Linked DNA regions of Homo sapiens: region 2 is linked to region 1. A link means that fine-mapping ties the variant in region 1 to the expression of a gene that starts in the linked region. Tissue or cell type: whole blood. Region 1 holds a variant in brackets; the other region holds the start of a gene. All regions are shown on one strand. Distances are between the middles of the regions.

Region 1 (5,193 bases):
GATTCTCCTGCCTCAGCCTCCCGAGTAGCTGGGATTACAGATGCCGCCACCATGCCTGGCTAATTTTTGTATTTTTAGTAGAGATGGGGTTTTCACTATGTTGACCAGGCTGGTTTTGAATGCCTGACCTCAGGTGATCCGCCCGCCTCAGCCTCCCAAAGTGCTGGGATTACAGGTGTGAGCCATCACTTCGCCTAACTTTACCTTTAAGTAGCCGCTCAACTAATAATCTTGGTCTATTTAACATTTTAATTTTTTTTTTTTTTTGACGGAGTCTCACTCTGCCATCTAGGCTGGAGTGCAGTGGCGCAATCTCGGCTCACTGCAACCTCTGCCTCCCGGGTTCAAGCGATTCTCCTGCCTCAGCCTCCCGAGTAGCTGGGATTACAGGCAGGTGCCACCAAGCTCGGCTAATATTTTGTATTTTTAGTAGAGATGGGCTTTCACCATGTTAGCTAGGATGGTCTTGGTCTCCTGACCTCATGATGCACCCACCTTGGCCTCCCAAAGTGCTGGGATTACAGGTGTAAGCCACCGCGCTTGGCCCTTTTTTTTTTTTTTTTGAGACAGAGTCTCGCTCTGTTGGCCAGGCTGGAGTGCAGTGGCACGATCTCGGCTCACTGCAACCTCCGTCTCCCGGGCTCAAGCAATTCTCCTGCCTCAGCTTCCCGAGTAGCTGGGATTACAGGCGTGTGCCACCACCCCTGGCTAATTTTTGTATTTTCAGTAGAGATGAGGTTTCACCATGTTGGCCAGGCTGGTCTCGAACTCCTGACCTCAGGTAATCCGCCCACCTCGGCCTCCCAAAGTGCTGGGATTACAGGCGTGAGCCACCGTGCCCGGTACATTGTAACTTTTTCAACAGAAAGACTTGAGATCAGCCAGGCACAGTGTAATCCCAGCACTTTGGGAGGCCAAGGCAGGCGGATTACCTGAGGTCAGGAGTTCGAGACCAGCCTGGCCAACATAGTGAAACCCAGTCTTCTCTACTAAAAATACAGAAATTGGCCGGGCATGGTGGTTCACGCCTGTAATCCCAGCATTTTTTGGAGGCTGAGGCGGGCAGATCACCTGAGGTTGGGAGTTCGAGACCAGCCTGACCAACATGGAGAAACCCCATCTCTACTAAAAATACAAAATTAGCTGGGCGTGGTGGCACATGCCTGTAATCCCAGCTACTAAGGAGGCTGAGGCAGGAGAATCGCTTGAACCTGGGAGGCAGAGGTTGCGGTGAGCGGAGATCGTGCCATTGCACTCCAGTCTGGGCAACAAAAGTGAAACTCCATCTCAAAAAAAAAAAAAAAAAAGAAATTAGCTGGGCGTGGTGGTGAGCGCCTGTAATCTCAGCTATTCAGGAGGCTGAAGCAGGAGAATCACTTGAACCCGGGAGGCGGAGGTTGCAGTGAGCCGAGATTCTGCCACTTCACTGCAGCCTGGGTGACAGAGCATGCGAAACTCCATCTCAAAAAAGAAAAGGAAGGAAGGAAGGAAGGAAAGAAAGAAAGACAGACTTGAGGTTCTTTGAAAATCATCCATCCACTCATTCAGTGTCTAGTATATGCTTTCTAATTGGAAGGATCTACTGGTTCTCCAAGTAATGGTTAAGAATGATCAAGTGGGCCTGGCGCGGTGGCTCACGCCTGTAATCCCAGCTCTTTGAGAGGCCAAGGCGGGCAGATCACGAGGTCAGGAGATAGAGACCATCCTGGCTAATACAGTGAAACCCCAGCTCTACTAAAAATACAAAAAATTAGCCGGGTGAGGTGGCAGGTGCCTGTAGTCCCAGCTACTCGGGAGGCTGAGGCAGGAGAATGGCGTGAACCCGGGAGGCAGAGCTTGCAGTGAGCCCAGATTGAGCCACTGCACTCCAGCCCGGACGACAGAGCAAGACTCTGTCTCAAAAAAAAAAAGAAAAAAGAAAAAGAAAAGAATGATCAAGTGATACTGTAATCATAGTGTAAACTGTTATTGAAATCTTGTTTGCAAGCTGTTTCCAAACAGGTCTTTTAAGGGAAGTGGTCTTTTACTGAGTTATACATTTGGACAAGATTGATACAAGAGCTATTATCACAGGATTAGAGCGTGGGCGGGGGTAGTTGGGGGCGGGATGGGTGTAGGAGGTGGGGAGGGTGGATTTCCTGTTAAGCAGCCAATGAGTATCGCTCAGGACCTGCTAAATGCAGAGAGTGAAATGTGTCTGCAAGGTGCGCTCCCACCCTAGGAGCTTACCATCTAGTTGGGGAAATAGAACAAATATACAT[A/G]AAACGATTGAGGGGCTCAAAACAGCAAACTAAGTGCTTACGTATGCACTTAAGGGGGAATTTTAAGGAGGTTTATTTATTTTTTTGAGATGGAGTTTCGCTTTTGTCACTCAAGCTGGAGTGCAGTGGCACGATCTCTGCTCACTGCAACCTCCGCCCCTTGGGTTCAAGCAATTCTCCTGCCTCAGCCTCCCGAGTAGTTGGGATTACAGGCACCTGCCACCTCGCCCGGCTAATTGTTTGTATTTTTAGTAGAGACGAGGTTTCACCATGTTGGCCAGGCTGGTCTCGAACTCCTGGCCTCGTGATACGCCTGCCTCGGCCTCCCAAAGTGCTGGGATTACAGGCGTGAGCCACCATTCCCGGTCTATTTACTTATTTTTATTTAGACGGAGTCTCACTCTGTTGCCCAAACTGTAGTGCAGTGGCATGATCTTCGTTCACTGCAACCTCCGCCTCTTGGGTTCAAGTGATTCAAGGAGGCATATTTATGTGTATGTGTGAAAGATGAGTTTATGTCACCACTTTTGGAAGTGGTTATTTTTAATAACCCACTTCAAATAACCCACTTTATACATTTCAGTTGGACAATGAGGAAGTGAAATAATGTATCTATGTTAGATATTATGTATAGAAATTAAAATATGGTGATGATCAGTAAATGATACCTATTATTTTTAACATTTACAGAGGTAGGTGCTGAGAATACACAAAGATGAATAAGCCATGGTCCACAGCCCCTCCCTCTAAGAGTTCACAGTCTAATGGGAGGGGCAGACCAGGAACAGCTGACTACCATGCATGGGGAGAGCTCTGATAAACCTGCGCACTGTTGCGGAGGCACAAGTGAGGGTACCACATCCGCCTTGTGTTGCGGGGGCGGTTAGGGAAGGCTTTGCAGAGTCCTGAGAAAATACTAGGCTTGCCAGTTGGAGAACGGGAGGCAGGGCATTCCAAGTTGAAGAAACACCACATACAAAGGCAGAGTCCTGAAAACATAAGGTATGTCCACAATTAGTATTAGTTTGGTGTGAATGGAGCAAAGGAGCATGGAGCAGGGGAGTGTATCAGAAATGAGCCTGGTTTTACTTGCTTTTCAGCATGTTTAAGTCTCATTTGGTATTATTTTCATTGTTGAGACTGGTATTTTGCAGAGGAAGTATTTCTTTATTCCCTTTAACTGTTTTACTATATCTCTTACAAGTCTCAAACTGCTGATGGTGGTGGTTGGAAGGAGAACAAAACCAAATACAAGAAAAACTTGTGGCCAGGTACAGTGGCTCATGCCTGTAATCCTAGGACTTACAGAGCCCAGGGCAAAAGGATTGCTTGAGCCTGAGTTTAAGACCAGCCTGGGCAACACAGTCAGACCCCGTTTCTATGAAAAAATTTTTTCTTTTTTTGAGATGGAGTCTTGCTCTGTTGCCCAGGCTGGAGTGCAGTGGCGCGATCTTAGCTCACTGCAACCTCTGTCTGCCTCCTGGGTTCAAGCGATTCTCCTGACTCAGTCTCCCGGGTAGCTGGGATTACAGGCACCTGCCACTATGCCTGGCTATTTTTTTGTATTTTTAGTAGAGACGAGGTTTCACCATGTTGGCTAGGCTGGTTTCGAGCTCCTGACCTCAAGTGATCCACCCACCTCAGCCTCCCAAAGTGCTAGGATTACAGGCATGAGCCACTGCCCCTGGCCATCTACAAAAAATTTAAAAATTAGCCAGGGATGGTGGCACACGCCTGTAGGTCCAACTACTCAGAGACTGAGGTAAGAGGATCACTTGAATCTGGGAGTTCAGGACTGCAGTGGGCCAAGATCGAGCCACTGCTTTCCAGCCTGGACCACGGAGTGAGACCCTGTCTCAAAAAAAACAAAAAACAAAAAACAAACAAAAAACTTGTTATAGCCAGATTTATGACTTATTTTCTTGCAACAATTTAAACAGTTCCTTTTTTTTTTTTTGAGACGGAGTCTCACTGTCGCCCAGGCTGGAATGCAGTGGCGTGAACTCGGCTCAGTGCAAATTCTGCCTCCCGGGTTCCCGCCAGTCTCCTGTCTCAGCCTCCTGAGTAACTGGGACTACAGGCGCCCACCACCACGCTCAGCTAAATTTTTTTGTATTTTCAGTAGAGACGAGGTTTCACCATGTTAGCCAGGATGGTCTCGATCTCCTCACCTTGTGATCCGCCCGCCTTGGCCTCCTAAAGTGCTGGGATTACAGGCATGAGCCACCGCGCCCGGCCCTCTTTTTTTTTTTTTTTTGAGACGGAGTCTCTGTTGCCCAGGCTGGCGTGCAGTGGCTCAATCTCGGCTCACTGCAAGCTCCGCCTCCCGGGTTCATGCCATTCTCCTGCCTCAGCCTCCTGAGTAGCTGGGACTACAGGCGCCTGCCACCACGCCCGGCTAATTTTTTGCATTTTTAAAAGAGACGAGATTTCACCGTGTTAGCCAGGATGGTCTCAATCTCCTGACCTCGTGATCCGCCTGCCTCGGCCTCCCAAAGTGCTGGGATTACCAGCGTGAACCACCACGCCCGGCCTAAACAGTTCCTTTTGAAAGTAATAAGCTCGGTGTCTTGGGATAATTGCTCAGGGTCTCAGACAACTTCTCTCCCTAAGATGACATCTAGACACCCATGTTCACAGTGGCATTATTCACAATAGCCAAAAGGTGGAAAGAATCCAAGTATTCACTGACAGATGAATGGATGAGCAAAACATTATACAATGAAATACATTATTCAGCTATAAAAATGAAATTCCAGGCCAGGTGCGGTGGCTCACATCTGTAATCCCAGCACTTTGGGAGGCCGAGCCGGGTGGATCACCTGAGGTCAGGAGATCGAGACCAGCCTGACCAACAGGGAGAAACCTCGTCTCTACTAAAAATACAAAATTAGCCAGGCGTGGTGGCGCATGCCTGTAATCCCAGCTACTT
Region 2 (5,128 bases), 20 kb after region 1:
GCTAGGATTACAGGCACGTGCCACCATGTCAGGCTAATTTTTGTATGTTTAGTAGAGACGGGGTTTCACCATTTTGGCCAGGCTGGTCTTGAACTCCTGACCTTGTGATCCACCTGCCTTGGCCTCCCAAAGTGCTGGGATTACAGGCATGAGCCACCATGCCCCGCTGGAATATTGACTTCTATACAGGCAGGGGAAGATGGGGAACATTATACAACTAAAGATTTTTTTTTTTTTGAGGTGGAGAATGTGGCCCCAACAAGATGAGGATGGAGGCCATTGGAGATACTATGAGACTTCAGGATATAAAATGGGAAAGTGCCTGAAAAATATGGGACATTGAGGATAAGCAGGATTTGGTGTTCAAGAATGAGGGAAACAATGCTGGTATATTGTGGAGTCTCTTAAGAAGGAAGGACATGAACATATTATAGGATTTCAGTATTAGGAATGCTGGATGGATGAACATTGCTTTCCAAGAAAAATCCCCTAGTAAGTAGGGAACAGATAGGAGATCATGTTGACTATGGTCTATACCCATAAATCCTTTAAGTATCATCTTCCAGCCTCTAGAAGGACCACGATAAATCTTATTGGGATATGTTCTCTCTTGGAACCAGTGGGATTTTATTTTCTGTAACAGGAAATTGGGAAACAGTGCTCAGCAGTTCTCCCTTGGCACCATTCTGTCGTGTATCATAGTTTGCTTGGTTGCTTATGCTTTTTGAAGGGAGGCCCCCTGGTCTTCCTTGATTCTCCATGGTGCGGAGCTCGGCCTTGCTAGGTACTCTGTCAACACAGGTTGAATGAACATGAGTAGTGGTGAGTAGCGGGAGGGCAGGCCTTCACTCTTGGTGTGTATAGAGCAGGAACCTGAGTTCACATCGTGATGGGATGTCCATCCCCAGGAATGGCCTGGGGGTGTTGGTGAAAGATCCCTGACCTGGGGATGTGGTGAGGGGGAGGATTGCTAGAATGTTGAGAGATAGTCTTTGGATGGGAGTTGGTAATTATTATGGGATGCTGTAGGGTGAATTAGACTTCATGTAAATGTTTCATCTGTCAGCTTGGTATTTTGGTTGGTTGGTGTTCCTCAAAACTTAGGAGCTGGAGGTAAGCATCTGGAAAATACCTAGATTTTGGTGGGACTGGGTGGGGCCCTAGGTGGGCTCCCAGCCCCCGAGTGTCTGGAAATGATGGTATGAGGGAAGCTGGGGTCCCAGACATCAGGAGGCTTTTTGCCAGGATACTACTTTGGCCCAGAAAGGGATTAAGGTGTGTGCAAGTGGGGGCGGGGACAAGGAAGCGTGGGTAGCCTGCCTGGCCCTCCCTGCTCTGGGTGTTAGAATAGACTGACAGCGCCTGGAGATGGGGGTGGGAAGAATATGAATATTATGGGATGCCTGGCTCGAAGGGTATAGGGGTGGTAGAGTGGAGATGAAGCATTATGGGATGTGACACTGGGTTGTGTTGGGAGTATTATGGTATGTTTGGTTGACCACGGGCTCCTTGCAATTATTATGGGATGTCAGGATGTGGGTAGGAGAGTAAAATTATTATGGGATAGCTTTCCAGTGTTAGAGGAAAAGAGATTAGATGTCCATCTGTGGGGCGACAGTAGGGCTGTTGATCATTATGGGTTATCTTTTTGATAGAGGAGGGGTACTTACTATAGGCTGTGGAGCTAGAAGAGGGAAGGCTGGGGGTGATGTGAGCCTCTAGACCCTGGCCTGCAGGGACTGAGGGCAGCTCTAGGGGGTTAGTTATTATGGGATGTCAGTATAGAAAGTGGGAGACTGATTATTACGGGATGTGTGTGGGAGGAGGCCGAGTGTCCGTTGTTGTAGTATGGGGGGGGGTGAGTTTCTGACTATTATGGGATATCAAACTGGGGGTGGATGAAGGATGGTTATTATGGGATGTCTGTGGGGGATGGGGCTGAATATTATGGGATATGAGGCATAAGTGCTGCGAGGGGTGCTTATTATGGGATGGCCATGGGGAGGGAGGGGTGATGAATTATTATGGGATGTTAGCATTAGGTCCAAGAGTGAAGAAGAAGTTGGCAAAGGATGTCTATTATGGGATGTCTAAGAGGGTTAGTTGCAAAAGGTCTGCAATATTTTGAGATGTCAGCAGTCTCTGGCATATGTGTATGAAATGTGGGGGGGCAGGGTGTGTGTGTGTTGTGTGTGTGTGTGTGTGTGTGTGTGTGTGTGTGTGTGTGTGTGTTGGGGGGGGGGGTGTCCGTGTGTATTATGGGATGGCCAGGAGGTGGGCGGTTGCCCAGGTGACGCGCGCGCGCCCGCTGCGAAGGGGGCGTGGCCAGTGGTTGCCTGAGCGACGAGGGGGCGGGGGTTGCCCGGGAGACCTGGGGAGGAGGGTGGCGGTAGTGGAAGGGGGGGGTTGGAGTTGGTTGAGGTTATTATGGGCTGTCCGTGGGGGGGCGGGGCCTGTGCGGTGGGATTTCCCGGCCGGTGTTTCAGGCCCTTTAAGAGGCGACGCTGGAGCCGGAGCCATTTTCCCCCCTTCGGCCGCGGCGAGGAGGAGCCGGAGCGGGAGTGACACCGAGCCGGACCCAGCGCGACCTGCGGCGGCTCCGGGGTGAGGAGAGCGCGGGGTTCCCAAAGAGACGCCCCTCACGGCCCTACCAGCCCCGAGGGTCATCCCGTCACCCGCCCCTTCCTCAGGCGTCTCCGGACCCGCGGACCGCCCCTTGCCCAGAGGAGCCGACCCTTCCTTTCCTGGCCCTGCAGGGCGCCCGGCCTCCTCCCCAGCCCCCGCCCTAACCCTGCCGGAGTCTTGCTCCCCGCGACCCCCCGCCTCCGGCTTGGTCTCCCACAATGCCCGGCGCCCACCCCCTCGCCCTTTGATCACTTGCCCCCCGGGACACGTGGCCCGGCCCCCTTCCCGGTGGGACGCTTTCGCCCCCCGCGTCCCTGCCTCCGGCCCCCCGCAGCGCCCGAGCCTCCACGCCCCCTCGTCCCCGCAGCTCTTGAGGAGAACCTGAGTTGTCCCAGAGGACAGCCTTTGGAGAGCTGCCCTGTCTGGGGACTGGCCCCTCCCCGGGCGCAGGGAGGCGCCCCCCCACCCCCAAGTGACCTTGTGTCCCCGAGCGCCTCGCCGCCTGCGGCCTCCCCTGGCCCCCCCGCGCCGCTGCCACTCGGACCCCCTCCCCCGTCACACCCCGCTCGGTCCAGCCCCGCGTCTCCCCTCCCCGCGCTTGCACCAGCCTGCCCTCGGAGGCGTCGCTCCCTCGCTCCGTGGGGGCGCCTGCCGGGGAGCCGGCTTCCGGGCTGCCCCCGAGGAGTGTGGAACTAAGTTCAGCCTGAGCGGTTCGGGTGCCCTGCTAGGGTGGCTGGGGTGGGGGGCGGAAAGAGCGGGTGGGTGTGGGGGAGGGGGACAGTGCGCGTCACTGACTGTTCTGTGTTTCTCCCCCCTCCCCCGCACAGTGACTCGGGCCAGTGTAGAGGTCCTCAGGCCGCCGGCAGGAGCAGCTGGGCCAATTCCCTGGCCGGGAGCGGAAGGGGATGGCGTCGGGCCTGGGCTCCCCGTCCCCCTGCTCGGCGGGCAGTGAGGAGGAGGATATGGATGCACTTTTGAACAACAGCCTGCCCCCACCCCACCCAGGTAACATCTTCCCCAAGGGCCCATGGCGGGAAGGAGACATCTGGGGCTCTCCCGAGTGACTCCTCTGGTGAGGCAGGGCTGTGTTGCTCCGCTGTCTCTGTGCAGAGCCGGAGGTGGAGGGTATCCGAAGGGAGTGGTTCCCTTCTGCGGAGCTCTGGTGTGAGGGGGGTGGAAGCCATGTGCCTCCTGGGCACGGAGATGCCAGCTTGCTGCACTCTGTCTTGAGGAATGCTCTGCAGTTCCCAGTTGAGGGAGCTCTCTGGGCTGGCAGGCATTACCTGGTATGTGGGTCCTCGGAGGAATGCAGGTAGCTGGGACCCCTGGAGGCTTGTGGTGGTGGTGGTGGAGGGGGGCGTTGAGGATTCTGTTTGAAAGACCAGCCGGGCATCTGTGCTAGTAGGATCCTGTGGTTGCTGCTGTGGAAAGGAAAGAGGGAGTGCTGGTTACACTCTATCTGATTATTTTTAGCTTCTGATCGGTTACCGGTTTTCTGTGCTGTCTGAACTGTGTGAAGTTTGAATCGCGCTCCTCAGCAGGATCTGGAGTGCTTAAAGCAGCCAGGCAGATTGCTGGAATGTTTTGAGTGGGGAAGTGATGGGGGCTCGGGGAGGATGTAATAGCCTAGTGAAGAGGGGCAAAAGAAGGGAGGGCACTCCTCCTCCTGGTGAGTGGACATAGTTTTGGCTTTTTTCCTAGTGGCTTCTGTCTCTATGAGGTAGCCTGCGGTTTAGGCTGGCAGTGTGAAGTGTCTGTGTAGGTGTGCTAGGGGTTACGCTATCTGTGTTTTGGGGTGGCTTCATGAACTGGCCAAACCCGTATGGTTGTAACCACCCTGTCTGATTGGGGGAACTGTTGTCTATCCTCAAATGATGGTTGATGTCATGCCCCTAAGCAGATGTCTTTCTCTTCTGTGTCCTTTTTCAGAGCCCCTAGCTGTGTCACCTACTCATCTCCTTGACCTTCATGTTTTCTAGTTTAATTTTTTTTTCTACATGTCATTTCTTCATTCCTTCTGCTTCTAGTTTTCTTCTCATTCTGGAGCCTGCTGATCCTGTTTTTGTTTCTCATCCAGCATCATTCACTTCTGCCTTCTCTCTTCTTAGCTTCAGTGGAAGTTGAGGTGGTCTGGGAGAGATGCTTTCACATTTGGCACTTTTTAAGTTGGAATTCTTCACTTCAACCTGAGGCCATTTAGGAGAGGGGTTAGTGTTGTCATGGAGTCTGGGCTGTTGGGATGAGAAACTTGGTTTCATCCTTGTGTAGAGTAGGGGGCAGATTTCCATGCCCTTGCCCAAGGTGAGGGCGGAGTTGTGGTGCTGGTAAGGGGACCCTGTCCTTCTGAGAGGGGCATGAGAAACAGTAGTGCTGCCTAAACATTCTGGGTTCCACGTCTTGGCCTCCCATTGGCCACTTGGGCTGGGGCTGCCTTTCATGTTGACCGGGAGCTGCGCAGGAGCTGTGAACTCTGTCCTGAGCTGTAGCATGACCCACTTTTTCC

What was found. PIP is the estimated chance that this variant, and not a neighbour inherited with it, causes the effect.
Region 2: CHD4 starts here. The variant in region 1 is fine-mapped to the expression of CHD4 in whole blood (TOPMed, PIP 0.99).

Annotation. Positions count from the first base shown.
Region 1 is chr12:6,624,746-6,629,938 of GRCh38, reverse strand. All of the region lies in intron 1 of LPAR5 (lysophosphatidic acid receptor 5), which reads left to right. LOC105369631 (a long non-coding RNA gene) reads right to left here. Exons shown (of 4, transcript XR_007063192.1): 4 at 3,173-3,250. Among named protein-coding and RNA genes, the nearest start is that of LPAR5, 8.6 kb to the left of the region's middle. The variant A/G (reference allele first, on the strand shown) is at 2,262.
Region 2 is chr12:6,604,776-6,609,903 of GRCh38, reverse strand. It overlaps CHD4 (chromodomain helicase DNA binding protein 4), which reads left to right and starts at 2,525. Exons shown (of 40, transcript NM_001273.5): 1 at 2,525-2,604; 2 at 3,453-3,630. The coding sequence starts at 3,531. LOC124902867 (a long non-coding RNA gene) reads right to left here and starts at 4,018. Exons shown (of 2, transcript XR_007063193.1): 1 at 3,909-4,018; 2 at 594-789. RefSeq lists enhancers at 1,905-2,054, 3,795-3,954 and silencers at 2,645-2,744, 3,155-3,214, 3,395-3,444.